3 linked regions of the Homo sapiens genome follow. The protein of the gene in region 1 purifies or fractionates together with the protein of each later gene. This does not show direct contact. Each region holds a gene or a part of one and is shown in the gene's direction. Other genes may lie near its edges.

The links.
Region 2: the proteins of RNF139 (region 1) and HM13 purify together in Homo sapiens (affinity purification with western blotting; 2 studies listed by BioGRID and IntAct, with this or other methods). This does not show direct contact.
Region 3: the proteins of RNF139 (region 1) and INSIG1 purify together in Homo sapiens (affinity purification with western blotting, with the first as the bait; 3 studies listed by BioGRID). This does not show direct contact.

Annotation. Positions count from the first base shown.
Region 1 is NC_000008.11:124,477,866-124,484,990, forward strand, and holds part of RNF139 (E3 ubiquitin-protein ligase RNF139), read left to right. Parts: intron 1-5,394; exon of another isoform or gene 5,395-5,542; intron 5,543-7,125. UniProt on the Homo sapiens protein: E3-ubiquitin ligase; acts as a negative regulator of cell proliferation through mechanisms involving G2/M arrest and cell death.
Region 2 is NC_000020.11:31,509,533-31,517,493, forward strand, and holds the start of HM13 (signal peptide peptidase), read left to right. Parts: upstream 1-4,909; 5' UTR 4,910-5,019; coding exon 5,020-5,202; intron 5,203-7,961. UniProt on the Homo sapiens protein: Catalyzes intramembrane proteolysis of signal peptides that have been removed from precursors of secretory and membrane proteins, resulting in the release of the fragment from the ER membrane into the cytoplasm.
Region 3 is NC_000007.14:155,307,855-155,310,837, forward strand, and holds the end of INSIG1 (insulin-induced gene 1 protein), read left to right. Parts: intron 1-386; coding exon 387-416; coding exon of another isoform or gene 417-504; 3' UTR 505-2,381; downstream 2,382-2,983. UniProt on the Homo sapiens protein: Oxysterol-binding protein that mediates feedback control of cholesterol synthesis by controlling both endoplasmic reticulum to Golgi transport of SCAP and degradation of HMGCR.

The DNA of each region.
Region 1 (7,125 bases):
AACATAACAGAAGACCCAGAAGTTCCAAGGAAAAATCTGAAAAATTTCAGTACATAAAAATAAAAAGCTTTTTTATGGCAAAGCTTAAAAAAGAATCCTTAAATGACAAACTGAGATAAAATACTTCTATCATAAGTGATTCACGTTCCAGTAAGAGTTTTACCCTGCCAGGGAAGCTGAGGCAGGAGAATCGCTTGAACCAGGGAGTTGCAGGTTGCAGTGAGCCGAGATCGCTCCACTGCACTCCAGCCTGGGGATAGAGTGAGACTCTGTCTAAAAAAAAAAACAAAACAAAACAAGAAAAAACTTATACTCCCTTAGGAAAATGCCTAAGACAAGCAATTCACAATAAACAAAATGCAGATGTTCAATAAGCAAGAGAAAAAGTATTTAGCCCTTCCTGCAGTAGCTTGATTTTATGGGGGAAAAAAAAAAGTACCTAGCCTTGTTTATAATTAAATACTGTCAAGACCGCTTACGGTGGCTCACGCCTATAATCCCAGCACTTTGGGAGGCTGAGGCAGGCAGATTGCTTGAGGCCAGGAGTTTGACACCAGCTTGGCCAAATGGCACAACCCGTGTCTACCAAAAAATTAGCCGGGTGCAGTGACTCCTGCCCATAGTCCCAGCTACTGTGGAGGCTGAGGCACGAGAATCTCTCGAATCGGGGAGGTGGAGGTTGCAGTGAGCCAAGATCGCGCCACTGCACTCCAGCCTGGGCGATAGAGCGAGACTGTCTCAAAAAAAAAAAAAAAGTCAAAAAAAATTTATCAGATTGGTGAAGAGTTCAAAGTTTTATTAGTTTTGCAAAGGTATTTACCTTTTTGAAATAGGTAAATTTATACAATTTTGGAAGACTTTTTTTTTTTTTTGAGACGGAGTTTGCTCTTGTTGCCCAGGCCGGAGTGCAATGGCGTGATCTCGGCTCACCACAACTTCCACCTCCCAGGTTCGGGCGATTCTCCGGCCTCAGCCTCCCGAGTAGCTAGGATGATTACAGGCAAGCGCCACCACCCCCGGCAAATTTTTTTCTATTTTTAGTAGAGACAGGTTTTCTCCATGTTGGTCAGGCTGTTCTCCAACTCCCGACCTCAGGTGATCTGCCCACATCGTCCTCCCAGAGTGCTGGGATTACAGGCGTGAGCCACCGTGCCTGGCCCGGAAGACTCTTAATTTCAGTGTAAAACCATTTGGCAGTATCAACTGTCATTTACAACTGACTTCTCAGTGTTTTGTTTTGTTTTTGAGACAGTCTCACTCTGTCACCAAGGCTGGAGTGCAGTGGCGTGATCTCAGCACACTGCAACCTCCACCTCCCAGGTTCAAGCGATTCTCCTGCCTCAGCCTCCCAAGTAGCTGGGATGCCTGGCTCGTACAACTTTTGACTCACAATTTCAATTCTAGGGAATTGGCCTAGAGAGATAGTTTGCTTAAGGACTATGGGCAAGCATTACTGGAAATAACAAAGCAACAAACTTAATCTAAATATGTATTGATACAAATCTGTTCATTGTATTAGGTCTAGCCATGCAATAAAGTTCTTGAAAGAAATGAGATAGCTATTTTTGGTGCCGAAAAAGACTTCAGAAAACCTCTGAAGTGAAAAAACAAAGCCGAAGTAATTATCACTGGCAGAGGAATAGACAGAGATTTCTCAACAGTGGCAGTATTGACATTTTGGACAGGATAATTCTTTGTTTGCGGATGGGAGCTCTCCTGTGCACTGTAAGATTTTTAGCAGCATCACTATCCCCTGCCCATTAGATGCCAGTAGCACCTTGCACCCCCACACCCCAGTGTGACAGCCAAAACTGTCCCTGGATATTGCCAAATCATGGTTGAGAACCATTGGGATAGACAAATAGATTAGTACTTAGCCTTATTTATAATTACATAGCCCAGAAACAGACACCAATGTATATATAGAAATAATGTGTTTCAGAGATAGAATTGAAGTACATTGAGGTAAATATGGACTGTTGAATTAATGATCATTTTGTTACACCTTTGGAAATAAATTATACTAGATGTCTACCTTATGTCAATATATAGACAGTCACTTCTAGGTTGAGCAGTGTAGTGAGACCCTGTCTCTGCAAAAATAAATATTTAAAATAATAGCCATACTTGGTGGTGGGTGCCTGTAGTCCTATCTTACTCAGGAGGCTGGGGTGAGAAGATCGCTTGGGCCTAGGAGTTCAAGGCTGCAAGTGAGCTATGATTGCATAACTGCACTCCAGCCTGGCTGGGTGACAGAGCAAGACCCTGTCTCTTAAAAAAAAAAAATAGTCATTTCTAAGTGTATTCTTACCTAGATGTATATGTAAATATGAAATGCAGAACTTTAAATTTTTAGAAAAAAATATGGAATATTTTATTTTTCCAATCTTAGATTAAGGAAGAAATCCTTAAAAATATATAAAAGCAAATACATAATGAAGATTGATAAACCGAATGATATTGAGGTTAAAAACCTATGTTAATCAAAAGATCGCACCACTGCACTCCAGCCTGGGCAACAGAGCGAGACTCCATCACTAAAAAAAAAAAAAAAAAAAAAAGGAAGTCAAATCTTGGGTAAGGGGGAACTACTGTACTTACATTTACCCATTTATTATAAAGGCAATTACAAAGGACACAGATGAATTAACCCGATGGAAGGAGATGTACAAGGTGAGACAAAGAAGGAGAGAAGAGGAGAAGGGGCGTGGAGCTTCAGTGTTCAGCTATCTGAGAGCTCACAGAACTCAGTCCTTTTGGGCTTCTATGGAAGTTCATTAAATAGGCAAGATTGATTAGATCACTAGTCATTGGTTTATGGACTCAAGTTTCAGCTTCTTTCTTCCCAGAAGTGGCGGCTGGGGGTAGGAATCAAAGTTATAACCCTTAATCACTGGGCTGATTCCCCTGGCTACCTAGCCCCCATCCTGAAGCTATCTAGGGGCCCCCAGGCACCAGTCATCTGATTATTGTACAAAACAGTCATCACTCCAGAGATTCCAAGGATTTTAGAAGCTATGTCAGAAAATGGGACAAAGACCAAATATTAATATTTTTTTTATGATATCACAGATGGGAAAGACAAACTAGAAAAACTTGCTTTAACTCTTCATTTAACACCTCTCTGTAGGGTTTGGCTTTTTAAAATCCATGTTCATATATTTTTGATAAAAGCATACTTATTATAAGTTTAGTTTAAAAGCAAAAGTTTAATTTTGTGTTAATACTTAGAATACCAGGTTTTTTTTCAACCTAAAATGAGAATCCAATAGAAATGTTTTCTTTATAATTTATCAAGTATACCAACAGATTAACAACATTTCAAGACACTTTGTTGTAAACTTCATTGCGGAAGGCTCCCTTGGGAGTAAGGTAGTAGTAACATTTATTTCTGTGCTTTTCCATATTTATTCTGTCAGGTATTGAAATGTTTTTCCACAGGTTGCTTTTTGTTTTAGAGGTATTTCGGGTACTTGGAGAATTGTAAATATTATGTTTTGTACCCTGATTTTTAGTCATAAGTTTCCAAAAGAGGGTAAGGGTATGAATAGACTTTACACATAAAAGAGTGAAACACTTTGTTATGTAACATGTATAGTAAGTTTTTATTTTTTCTTTTGTTTTTATTTGCCTGTTTTTGGTAATCCAAATTGAAAAGGCCTGAACTCTTTCATGAGTTGAGTTCATATATAGTTTCAAAGTTCCTGAATTGATTTGGATACCTGCCTCTTTTTGGCTACCTTGAAAACTCTAGTGAACTCTCTTAATCACTGGAGAATTGGACTGAGATCTCTGAGTTGTGATTTCAGTAAATTCTGTTCTCAAAATTTTTTATAAAGCAGCATTTATATACAGTCTTGATTACTTGTGCAAGTCACTTCCAAATCCTAATGAGAAACTGTCTCTGGACTTTTATATTTTCTTAGACCTACAGTTTAAATACCAAGAAAGGCTTTCATGTCTAATGTAAAAATGCAGTGAAACTTTGATATTATTCTGCAAAGGCCATGAGAAAGATGATTACTTTGGAGACTTGTTACTTAGGATATTGGTTTTTAAAATGAGAGCAGATTCTTCCCAAATTCCATAGGTAGGAACGTGACTATAAAAGGAAAATCTATGAACCCCATATACCTACAAACTTTGGGTAGGAATTAAAACAAACATATACTATTCTTGAAATGTTAACTCACTATTACATCTTGGGGGGTGTGATTTTAATCAGGATAGAGTATTGTCAGATTGTTACTTGCTGGGATACATCCAAATTTTGAGGTTGTAGTCTTACTACATTATTTGTCTATCTGATGCCTTCCCCTTTTTTTCTTTGATACATTTGCATAAAGCAAAATGGCACTTTTTCACTAGAAATGTTTCTAAAACCCAAATAATTTCTTCATTTGTGTGTAGTAAAAACAAGCTTCAGGAAAAAAGTTATTAGAATTTTAAAAATTAGTTATAAAATTATGGCAAAGCTCATGAATAGTTACTGAAGATTAATTTACTACTTTGTGAATAGCAAGTTGACAAAAATAATTTACAGTTCCTGCTTGACTTTCTCCCCTCTAAGTGGCATAAAGTAGAACTAGAGTTATTTTGTTTTGGTTTTGACCCAACTTAGAAGATTTGTTTTAAAGTTTCTGAAGTTTTGTCTCAGGAAAATAAGGTGGTTTTCCATGTAGAGAATGTAAGATTACATATGGCATCTGGTAGGCTGAATTAATTCCATTTTCTTGTTACCTTCCATGGAAGAAGTTTCTAATAAAAAAATCTTTTCAGGGCCGAGCGCAGTGGCTCACGCCTATAATCGCAGTAGTTTGGGAGGCCGAAGCGGGTGGATCACCTGAGGTCAGGAGTTTGAGACCAGCCTGACCAACGTGGAAAAACCCTGTCTCTACTGAAAATGCAAAATTAGCTGGGAGTGGTGGTACATACCTGTAATCCCAGCTTCTTGGGAGGCTGAAGCAGAAGAATCGCTTGAACCTGGGAGGCAGAGGTTGCAGTGAGCCAAGATCACGCCATTGCACTCCAGCCTGGGCAACAGGAGCGAAACTCCATTAAAAAAAATATAAAAAAAAATATATATATATATAATATATATATATTATTTAAATATATATATATTTAAAAATATATATATTAAAAATATATATATATATTTAAATATATATATATTTAAAAATATATCTATTAAAAATATATATATATTATTTAAATATATATATATTTAAAAATATATATATTAAAAATATATATATTTAAAAGAGCCTGTTCTGAGCTCACAACTCTTTGGGGGATTATTAGTGGCCCATTTTCTTGGGGAATCAGGTGGTTTGTATTTAGAGGTTTATATGTCTTCTACTTTATTGTGTCCTTTTGTTTTCCTTTTCACAGATGACTTGACATTTTGGCACAGAATACATTTTAAATCCCTGGACAGAGTCATCACTTAAATGAACTAGCCCTTGCTTATATGTGCAGTGGATTGTGAAATGCGTCTACTGTAATAATATGCAATGTCTTGATTACCTGCTGAAATAAGGTGGATAGATGGATTTTTATTTTATTTAATATTTATTTATTTATGTATTTTGAGACAGGGTCTCACTGTCACCCAGGCTGGCATGCAGTGGTGCGATCTCAGCTAACTGCAATGCCTCCCGGGTTCAAGCGATTCTCCCACCTCAACCCCCTGAGTAGCTGGGAGTACAGGCACGTGCTACCACCCTGGCATATTTTTATATTTTTGGTAGAGACAGGGTTTCACCATGTTGACATGGTCTTGAACTCCTGGCCTCAAGTGATCCACCCGCCTCAGCCTCCCAAAGTGCTGGGATTACCATTGTGAGCCACCACACCCAGCCAAGATGGATTTTTAATTTGGAGTTTGTCACTTTTTCTGTACTCCAGGGTATGGTTTCTCATTGTCTGAAACATAGATTTTATTTTTCAAGCAGGCTATATTTTGTGGTTGCCTTTAAAAACATCCAGATGTGACAGACATTTCCTAATGAATACTAATTGTACTTATTTTGTACAAAATATTGTAGAATCCATAGATGGACAGGGTAGGATCTTTGCTTTCTGTTATAGATACATGTGTAATAGGGTAGATTATACTTAGATAACTGCAGACTACAATATCAGGTGATATATGAGTGTTAAATGTTTCACTAAGTTCTGCAGGTATGCTGAAAGAACAGTTTCTATCAAAGAAAGTAGGTTTCTAGGATAGGTAGGATTTGAATAGTCAGGGATTGGGAGGTTGGGGACATCATTCCAAGCAAAAAGAATGTAAACACTGCTGTAGCTATAGTGGAGAAAGGAATGTGTTTGGGGAATCCAAGTCTGGAGCACTGATGTGTGTGTGTTAGGAGGAATATTACTGTAAAGCAAATTGGGTTCTTGAATGCCAGGAGCAAGAATGTAGATTTTAGTTGATAGTAATTTCAGAGCCGCTGAAGTATTTTGAGCAGGGAATGAAGAAAGGCAATTTGGTGATGGCTTGTAAATGGATTTGGACAAGATGAGGGTTTTTTGAGACAGACTGATTGATTGGTGTCACAGAAAAGGGAGATAGAGGTGTTAGAAGAATTTGGCAACTAATTGGCAAAGTTTGAGCATGTGGGGCTGGGTTGGGAGTATCTCTAAAAGAACAATAATGGTACCTTCAACTGAAATAGCAAATCACAAGGAAAAGCTGATTCTAGTTTAAGGCAAGTCGAGTTTCAGAACTTTGGAGATTTGCAGTTGTAGGAGTGAAAGTAGGTGAGTATTCAGATGTCATTCCCATTGTTGAAACCTTGGATAATAATGTGTTTATTGTAATCCTACTTAAAATATGCATTTCTGTCAGAGTACAAAGAAAGATGGTGTCTATGGAGTGGGGGAAGGAGAATTACCATTTTCTAAAAACATGTCTTGGTTTTCTGAGTGTTACTTTTGTAATGTGAAGAACAATAAAAAGAGTTGACTATTTTAAGAAACAGATTCAGCATTATACAGGAAAAAGGGAACTTGGAAGATGTTTCTAAGTCCGAAGGAAACTAGGAGGAAAAAAAATGGAATTTTGGACCCTTTGGAGAATGCTCAGAGTTAAGGAGTAGGAAATAAGAGCTGGCATGA
Region 2 (7,961 bases), on another chromosome or scaffold:
AGCCGAGATTGTGCCACTGCACTCCAGCCTGGCAACAGAGCTAGACTCCATCTCAAAACAAAAAAAAAAAAAAAAAAAAGTGAAACTATCTCAAAAAAAAGACTCAGGCCAAGACAGGTCTACACTTTCCCATCTTCTAAATTCAATTCAAAGGTCATCTAGAAGGCCAGTATGGCAAGGAAAAAACAAGTCTTCATCAAATCTAGTAGATCTAGATAAAATAAGATACAGGCCAGGCGTGGTGGCTCACACCTGTAATCCCAGCACTTTGGGAGGCCGAGGCGGGTGGATCATGAGGTCAGGAGATCAAGACCATCCTGGCTAACACGGTGAAACCCCGTCTCTACTAAAAATACAAAAAAAAAAAAAAATTAGCCGGGCACGGTGGCGGGTGCCTGTAGTCCCAGCTACTTGGGAGGCTGAGGCAGGAGAATGGCATGAACCCGGGAGGCGGAACTTGCAGTGAGCTGAGATCATGCCACTGCACTCCAGCCTGGGCGAAAGAACGAGACTCCATCTCAAAATAAAATATAAGATCCACATCTTGGTTGGGCGTGGTGGCTCACGCCTGTAATCCCAGCACTTTGGAAGGCCGAGACGGGCAGATCACGAGGTCAGGAGTTTGAGACCAGCCTGACCAACATGGTGAAACCCCATCTCTACTAAAAACACAAAAATTAGCCGGGCGTGATGGCGGGTGCCTGTTGTCCCAGCTACTCAGGAGGCTGAGGCAGGAAAATTGCTTGAGCCCGGGACACAGAGGTTGCAGTGAGCCAAGATCACACTACTGCACTCCAGCCTGGGTGACAGAACAAAACGCCATCTCAAAAAAAAAGATAAGATCCACATCTAATTTTATTGACACAGAAAATGTCAAGAACCCCAAATTTGGTTGGTTTGAAGAACATGTGAAGGGTTTGACTAGATGATGAATGTCAATATTAAATCAGCTGAAGTTTCATATACAAAATGAAGAGGAACAGCATTCAAACTTAGTTAAGACACAATTTCCTTGAGTGGCCAGGCATGGTAGTCATGCCTGTAATCCCAGCACTTTGGGAGGCCAAGGTGAGCAGATCGCTTGAGCCCAGGAATTCAAGACCAGCCTGGGCAACATGGTGAAACCCCATCTCTATAAAAAATGGAAAAATTAGCTGGGCATGGTGGTATATGCCTATAGTCCCAGCTACTCGGGAGGCTGAAGTGGGAGGGTCGCTTGAGCCCAGGAGGTCAAGGCTGCAGTGAGCTGTGATCATGCCATTGTGTTCCAGCCTGGGTGACAGAGTGAAAATGTGCCTTGAAATAAAATTTTCCTTTGAATACGGCTTAAGAAATATGGCCACTTAAAACTCTACCTTGAAAATAAATATAGATTTTATCTTATCTAGAGGTAGAGTGGGAAGTTTTCATTTGGTACATTAAATCTATAAGGCCATAAACAGGTAATATAAAAAGCTTTCATAATTCAATTTATATATAACATGAGAAGGAACTTCCAGGTGTTACTATGAATCTTCTATGTATAGTTACAGTCAATATACTTTATATAAGAGATAATTTTAATACCAATATAATCTAGATAACATTTTACTTTGTTATGTTATCATTGTTCTCTTGGGGAATAAATTTTTTCCTCTGAGGCTCTGGATTTGACATTGAATTTTGTGTGTACTAATTGACATGTGCCAGGGCAATGATGGACTGGAATCCACCCCCAAATCAAAGCATCATGGTAAATCTTGCTTATCCTTATAAAGTCAAATGATAGACATTTCCCATCACCTATTTCTATTCAACAAGAGCACCAGATTCAGTTAGCTAATCTGCTTCCAAAGAGTAGAACTGCATTGAGCTCAAATAATTTCAAAATACTGACTTTTTTTTATTTATTTATTTATTTTTTAGATGTGGTCTTGCTATGTTGCCCGGGCTGGTCTCTAACTCCTGGGCTCACACGATCCACCCACCTCGGCCTCCCAGCATGCTGGGATTACAGGCGTGAACCACCATACCCAGCCTATTTCTGCGTATGTTAAACATGCTTTACAATTTTAAAAATGAACTGTTTTGAAGGTAAAATTACAAATCTTGAAATTAAAAAAGCAAATATGTAAAGGAGCAAAAACTATAAATCAAACATTTGAGAAGAGAAAATTGGAGGCTAACTTGTATTAAATTCACAAAAACTTCTATACTTTCTGTAAATACTTTTTTAAAAAACTATAGATCAGAGGCTAGGCGCAGTGGTTCACGCCTGTAATCCTAGCACTTTGGGAGGCCGAGGCGAGTGGATCACTGAGGTCAGGCGTTCGAGACCAGCCTGACCAACATGGAGAAACCCCATCTCTACTGAAAATACAAAATTAACTGGGCGTGGTGACGCATGCCTGTAATCCCAGCTACTCGGGAGGCTGAGGCAGGAGAATCGCTTGAACCAGGGAGGCAGAGGTTGTGGTGAGCCGAGATTGCGCCATTGCACTCCAGCCTGAGCAAAAAGAGCAAAACTCAGTCTCACAACAAACAAAAAAACTATAGATCAGAATAACCACCTTTAGAACACTTTCGGTTATCAGTCAATATTTTTAGATAGAAGCTGGTAGTAAGCCTAAAGTGGGCTTAATTCTGCAGTAAACAACTGCCTCAACACATAGAAATCTTTTTTAAAATAGGCACTCTTGGCCGGGCGCGGTGGCTCATGCCTGTAATCCCAGCACTTTGGGAGGCCGAGGCGGGCGGATCACGAGGTCAGGAGATCGAGACCATCCTGGCTAACACGGTGAAACCCTGACTCTACTAAAAATACCAAAAATTAGCCGAGCGTGGTGGCGGGTGCGTGTAGTCCTAGCTACTCGGGAGGCTGAGGCAGGAGAATGGCGTGAACCCGGAAGCTGGAGGTTGCAGTGAGCCGAAATCGTGCCACTGCACTCCAGCCTGGGTGACATAGCAAGACTCCATCTCAAAAAAAAAAATAAAAAATAAATAAAATAAAATAAAATAGGCACTCTTGCGGGAGGTGGCAGCTCATGCCTATAATTGCAGAACTTTGGGAGGCCGAAGTGGGCAGATTGCTTGAGCCCAGGAGTTTGAGACCAGCCTGGGCAACATGCCGAAACCCCATCTCTACTAAAAACACAAAAAGTTAGCCGGGCGTGGTGGCACACACCTGTGGTCCCAGCTACTGGGGAGGCTGAGGTGGGAGAATCACCCAAGCCCAGAAGGTAGAGGCTGCAGTGAGCTGTGATCATGCCACTGCACTCCAGCCTGGGTGACAGAGTGAGACCCTGTCTCAAAATAATAATAATAATAATAATAATAATAGGCCCTCCTTGAAGTTTTTTGTTTGCACAGTCACACAGTGATGCTTAGATGTTCCAGTATCTAATATAGCCACAGTAGGCTGCAAGCAGTGGCTCATACCTGTAATCCCAACACTTTAGGAGGCTGAGGCAGGAGGATCACTTGAACCTAGGAGTTTGAGACCAGCCTGGCCAACATGGCAAAACCCCATGTCTAAGAAAATATATATTTTTAACTTTTTTAACAATATCAAAAATAAGAATCACATAAATAAACAGATTCTTCAAATTCTGAAAAGAGCCACAAAGCTTTATAAATTGTACAGGGGCATGAACTCGTAAGGTATTATAATTGCCTGGCACATAGTAGGCTCTCAATACATTTGCAAACTCCACACACACCTTACTTTCTTTTGCTTTATTTTTCTCTATTTATCTGCATTAACATGCTATGTAACACATAACTATACATTAACGTTTTACAAATTACAAATTTTTCTTGTTTTTTTTTTTTTTTTTTTTGAGACAGAGTCTCACTCTGTCGCCCAGGCTGGAGTGCAGTGGGCTCACTGCAACCTCCGCCTCCCAGGTTCAAGCCAGTCTCCTGCCTCAGCCTCCCAAGTAGCTGGGATTGTAGGCGCCCGCCACCACGCCCGGCTAATTTTTTATATTTTTAGTACAGACGGGGTTTCACCGTGTTAGCCAGGATGGTCTCGATCTCCTGACCTCGCAATCTGCCCACCTCGGCCTCCCAAAGTGCTGGGATTACAGGCGTGAGCCACCGCGCCTGGCCTTTTTTTTTTTTTTTTTTTTTTTTTTTTTCAGACGGAGTTTCGCTCTTGTTGCCCAGGCTGGAGTGCAATGGCTCAGTCTTGGCTCACTGCAACCTCCGCCTCCCGGGTTCAGGCGATTCTCCTGCCTCAGCCTCCCGAGTAGCTGGGATTACAGGTGCGTGCCACCACGCCCGGCTAATTGTTTGTATTTTTAGTGCAGACGGGGTTTCACCATATTGGTCAGGCTGGTCTCGAACTCGTGACGTCAGGTGATCCACCCGCCTCGGCCTCCTAGAGTGCTGGGATTACAGGCGTGAGCCACTGCGCCCAGCCCATTTTACAGACTTTTATTTTGTTCAGTTTCTTTATTGTCTTCCCAACGTCCCCCCACACACACTGCACTAAAATGCAAACTTCACGAAGGCAAGGAGGAACTTTTGCCTGTATTGTTCACCTCAGTGTCCCCAGAGCCTAGGTCAGTTGTTGGCATATTGAGGGACATTCAATAAATATTTAAGGAGTGAATAAACAATTGGATACCCAATAAATGCATGTATGAATAAACACATTCTTAGTTATTCGGAATATGAGGATTTGCGGAGAGTGGACAGCAGGGGATTGAGGAGACCGGCTGGGACTGGGAAATGGGCATTCGGGTCGCATGCCCACCGCAGTGGCCCAGAGCCCCTGTCCGGACCGCTAACAAGTTGCTTAGCAACCCGCCGCCCGGCCCTCGGCCACCGCTAGAGGGCGAGCGGGCGGGGAGACGTGCACGCGCGCGCGCGTGCGTGCAAGCGTGTGTGCGCGCGTGCGCGGCGCGGGCTTGGGAGGGAGCACGTCACTTCCTGTTGCCTTAGGGGAACGTGGCTTTCCCTGCAGAGCCGGTGTCTCCGCCTGCGTCCCTGCTGCAGCAACCGGAGCTGGAGTCGGATCCCGAACGCACCCTCGCCATGGACTCGGCCCTCAGCGATCCGCATAACGGCAGTGCCGAGGCAGGCGGCCCCACCAACAGCACTACGCGGCCGCCTTCCACGCCCGAGGGCATCGCGCTGGCCTACGGCAGCCTCCTGCTCATGGCGCTGCTGCCCATCTTCTTCGGCGCCCTGCGCTCCGTACGCTGCGCCCGCGGCAAGGTAGGGTCAGCGGGAAAACCGGGCACTTTCCACCCCCATACCGAACACGGCCGACATGGACCCTTCCTAGGCGGGACAGACACCTCTCCCCGGACACTGACTCTTCCCAGCCCTGATCACCACCGTTCCCTCTGTCTCGGGCCCACATTCCGGGGCTGGCATTTCCTACCCCGGGATCTGGGCACCGACCCCCGACCAGGGTATGATACCTTCCCCAATAGGAACTTGCTTCTGCTCCCGACCCGGACCCTGACACTTCCCTCCCTGTGCATCATGCCGCGGCTGGGAACGCTGTCAGCCCGTCCCCCACTGCGACTCGGGCACTGATTGTTCTGAGCCTGTTGGGCCCAGGCAGATCAGCCCCATCATGTATACCTGATGGATACTGGTCCTCACAACTTACTGAATGGTACAATTTCGTGTCATTCCCTGTTAGGAACCCTGCCTCAGCCCACCGCAGGGCCCTTTCTACCATCCAGACCCATCCCTAGACTCTGACTCCTGTCTCACTGGAATCTATGGCACCTTATGTGCTCACCTAGATCCCCCACACCTGGCCCTTGCCCCTGCCTCAAAAACAATGATCTCTTAGAGCCCAGTTTTTCACATCACTTTCTGGAACCATCCCAGTCAGCTGGCTCCTCAGAAGCTGGCATCTTGGTGCCTCTACTTTCCAACTAGGCATGGACGTCTTATTTTCCTGGTTTCCTCTCTTAACTACCATCCAACCTTGGACATGGCCTAGTCAAAACCTAGACCTTGTTCCTAACCTGTAACCCTTTTCCCACCCAGCCTTTGACCCTATCTCAAAGTAGCCCTTCTCCCCATACCCCCAAGACAATCCCCCCACCAAACTGGGCCTGTCTGCTGGGCCACTGTTGGCCCCTCTTGTGAGACTGGGCCAGACTCCATCCCTGGCCTTCCTCAACATCTGTCCTATTGGATAACTAGGAGGACTCCAGCACATTTCACCTTCTGCTTCTCCCTCCCCCTTCCCTGCCCCACTTCTTCCCTATATTAAGCCCTTTCTAGCCCGTTGTACCAATGACTTTTCACTTCCTGGCACCCTCTCCCTTCCTCCACAACCTCTTAATCTGCACCTTCCCGATGCTCCTCCCCCACCCAGACCTGAGGATGGACCTAAGTGGAAGTCTTGCCCAAAGAGGGCAGGCCCACAAAGCAGCTGCCACTTTTGAAACTGCTGAAGCTGAGGTTCTCAAAACACTACCCAACTTGAGCAGTAGCTGAGGCCTGCCATCTTCCTTCCCCAGGAGCAGAGAACTCACTACTGGCTCTGTATGCGATCAGATGCAAAGGAAAGTAGTTAGGCGGGGCTTAGGCTGAGAGACTCAAACATGACTCCATTTTCCTTTTTATTTGGCTTTTTCTAAGCTGAGTTCAGGTGATATTAAGCCTCTCTACTATGCCTGTCAGGTAGACACTTAGTGTAGAGAGCAGTTCTGAGATAACCCAGGACAGAGGAGGCGAAGGACAGCTGGCATAAGGCTAGGCAGCTTGATCTGAGCTGCTCTCCAAACTGAGTAATTCTCCCTGGCACCTTCTGTACATGGATCACTAATCTCTGCAGAAAACACCTTCCAGGCAACAGTATTTCCTGAACTTCCACCACTGTCAGGGGTAAGGGAGGATTGCTGCAAAGATGAGTAGGTCAGAGCCCTGTCACCAAGGAATTCGGGAGCGTAGGTGAAAGAATAATAACTAGATTGTGATTATACTACAAGCAATGCTACAAGGTTTAGGGAGAAAGATTGAGCACATCTGGGACAATGCAGGGAGGCTTTGTGCTAGAGGTAGGCCTGAGCCTTGACGTAGAGGTAGAATTTCAGCCAGGAGAAGGCATTCTAAGCAAAAGAAACCAGGTAAGCAGAGAGAGGTACGGAGGCAGGAGGCTACGAGGCAGTTCAGGAAATAGTGGAAGGTTTGGTGTGGCTGGAACAGAGGGTATGGATAGGAGAAAGCCTTAGCCTCTGAATACCTCTCCCAAGCATCTCCTGCAGGGCAGCAGGGTGTGGAGGACTGTATGAATTTACAAACAGGACCTGACCATTAAGAGCCTGCCACCACCAATGACCCAGATGCGGTAAAGCTTGCAAAACCTTGACGCCCTTTGATGCTCACAGCAACTGAGGTGGCAGGCAGAGCCAGTTTCATTATCCTCATTGTACAGGAAAAGAAACTGAGAGTCAAAGAAATGACTTCTGAAGATCACTCTGCCATTTAGGGGCAGAATCAGGTATGCCTAGTCCTCATCCAGGGCTCTCTCCTAACACAGGTACCTTTAAAGACAAGCAGCATTGACCTAGGGAAAGGACAGGGCAAATGACTCCCCTTCTACCCTGAGTCGTTTCCCTGGTCATGTGAAAAGGAGAGAGAAGAGTTAGTGTGGGGACCCAGTTTTGATTTCCCACCAGTGTTGGACCCCAAAACCAGTTGGGAGAGAGGGAATGTGAGGACAGAATCCCCAAGGGTCAAGGTGTCCATAACAGGCAGGGAAAATTGTGAAATCATGGAGAGAAAGAAGGTAGAGCCTCCAGGAGTATGTTGTGAAGAAGTAGCCTTGGGAGGAGCAGTCTCAGAGCAGCACCCATCACTGTCAGAGTCCTATATCCCAGACAGAAGCGAATATGACCCAGGCAGTAGCTGCACATTAAACATTGGTTTAAAGGGCCCTCAGCGAACAGGACTGGGTGCCTGCTGTGGGCTAGGCTCTGGGCTGGGTACCAGGAGTTCCGGGACAA
Region 3 (2,983 bases), on another chromosome or scaffold:
AAGCATCACCATGCTTTGATAAAATTGGGTGTTTCCTTTATATAGATATTAATTTAGTTAAACTTTCACCAATATCTTACACTTATATAACAGGCTTTATATAAGGGCCTCAGCAGCGTAATTTCACCTGAGGCAGAGAATTATCCTAATTTTGCAGGTGAGAGCTGTGGCTCACGGGGCCAGAGCCATGAAGACGGTGCAGGGGAGCTGGGAGAGCTGGCCTCGGTCTCCAGTTCTCTGCACATGTCCCACCTCTCAATCTTGTTGCTTCAGTCAAAGAAAGTGTCAATCTTTCCCATGTTAGGACCTACTTAATTGGTAATTAAAATATTTATACATTTAGTGCTAATTTTCTCTTTCCTTTTTTTTTTCCTTTCTACACATAGGGTGTTCCTGAAAAGCCCCATAGTGATTGAGTCTTCAAAACCACCGATTCTGAGAGCAAGGAAGATTTTGGAAGAAAATCTGACTGTGGATTATGACAAAGATTATCTTTTTTCTTAAGTAATCTATTTAGATCGGGCTGACTGTACAAATGACTCCTGGAAAAAACTCTTCACCTAGTCTAGAATAGGGAGGTGGAGAATGATGACTTACCCTGAAGTCTTCCCTTGACTGCCCGCACTGGCGCCTGTCTGTGCCCTGGAGCATTCTGCCCAGGCTACGTGGGTTCAGGCAGGTGGCAGCTTCCCAAGTATTCGATTTCATTCATGTGATTAAAACAAGTTGCCATATTTCAAAGCCTTGAACTAAGACTCAATTACCAACCCGCAGTTTTGTGTCAGTGCCCAAAGGAGGTAGGTTGATGGTGCTTAACAAACATGAAGTATGGTGTAATAGGAATAATATTTATCCAAAAGATTTTTAAAAATAGGGCTGTGTTTAAAAAAAAAAACAAAACAAGAAAAGCAGCAGTGATTATAGAGAGGTCACACTCTAAGTGGGGTCGCGGCGTGGCCACGCTTCACGGTCACGCTCGTCCGTCCTGCAGTGGCGTGTTTACATGGTCACACGTGTGTGTATCACCAGTGGGTCAACTGCTTGTCATTCCTCCCGTGGCAGTTTGTGTAGACAATCTTACTGAGCAAAAGGCAATGAAAAGTCTTGGTTCCCACACTGCGATATATTGGAATTTTCACCTCAGTTTATGAAGTTTATTTCGAAATCCATAGTCATCTAAGAATGAATACCTGTCTGCCATGTATTTCAATCTTAGTGAGCCAAAATTGTTTGTTTGTTACTACAGAATAGAGATGACTGTTTTTTGCCACAGCCCTATGGAATTTGCAATCTGTGATTGCCTTGTAAAAAGGAGAGTGCATATGGCACTGCATTAAACGTGTGGTGTTTCTAGTCAATGATATTGGTGAGCACAATGTATTCATTTAATGGCATAGACCATACCAGACCTAATTTGCAAGTATTGGGTCTTAAACTTCAAGTGCAATGTATATGAAAACCAATCTGAGCCTTGTATCTCTTAAATATTTATTTTTTTTAACGTGTGAGATGTTCGAGAGAAGGTTCTCCATTCATTTCAGTGCTGCCTGGAGGAAACTCGGCAATGATTTCTTTCAGTTGTGAAGTTCCTTTCGTGTTACACCCTCCACTGAACCCTCAACCTTCGAAATACTCCAGTTTTGTGGGTTTGGTCATTTTTACTTATAAATTTACCTTTTTGTATTTTGCAATTTACATGTGTTTGGTTTGTTTTAAATTCTGTGAAAGTGGCTTGATTAAAAGACTCCTTTTAAATGGAAGCCACCAGTCAGCAGAATGGAAGCTTAGAGGAACTTGCCTGTGAGCGCTGGTCTTTGTGTTTGGTTTTGTGATGTAACGATCTTTGCTGGGGTTTTTTGCTTTGTTTTGAGGGAAATGTCTTGGAGTAAATTTTAAGTTCCTGGAGTTAATTTGTTTTACAGGAATTTTGTTTTTTAAAAAAATAGGATCATTCTGAACTTTGGAATGACCCCCTTATATATTTTCTGAAAATGAAAACAGTTACATGAAAAAAATTTCCAATGAAGATGTCAGCATTTTATGAAAAACCAGAAGTTATTAGATGAAAGCAGCGAGTGAATCTTTAAAACAGACTTGATCACGCACACACAATAAGTCTTTCTCTCCGAAACCGGAAGTAAATCTATATCTGTTAGAAATAATGTAGCCAAAAGAATGTAAATTTGAGGATTTTTTTGCCAATAGTTTATAGAAAATATATGAACCAAAGTGATTTGAGTTTGTAAAAATGTAAAATAGTATGAACAAAATTTGCACTCTACCAGATTTGAACATCTAGTGAGGTTCACATTCATACTAAGTTTTCAACATTGTGTTCTTTTTGCATTCATTTTTTACTTTTATTAAAGGTTCAAAACCAAGTGTTGTATTTATGTTTGCTTTTTAAAAAACAGTTGGGGTGGTGGTCTCTGTGTAGGATGTTAGAATTTGTAATGGAGAAATATTTTGCAGTTCTTCAAATTTTACTGAATTTTGACACAACCTCTTGGGAAGTATTTGAATCATCCTTCAATATACACAGGACATTGGTTCCAGGATACCCCACGTATGCGAAAATCTGCATACTCAAGTCTGGCACTTGGCCCTACGGAACCTGCGTACACTAAAAGTCAGCCCTCCGTATACGTGGGTTTCACATTCAGCAAATAAACCATGTTTGGTTGGAAAAGCTCCATGTATATAAGTGGACCCACAGGTTCAAACCCTGTGTTGTTTAAGGGTCAACAGTATGTGTTTTTCTTATGGTAGAAAGTTTTAAGTGCAGCACGAGCTGAATTGAACCTGCCACCTTACCCCTCCTCACCACAGGCACCCGGTTTTCAGGCAGGAGGAGCGGGCATGCCTGGCCTGTCACAGGGGCAGCTTCCCTGCTGCCAGCCGGCGTGGCTGGAGTTACTTGCACTCACAGGTTATCACGATGGGATGAGAACTGAAGAGATGCGTTGAGCACCAGGAACATTAA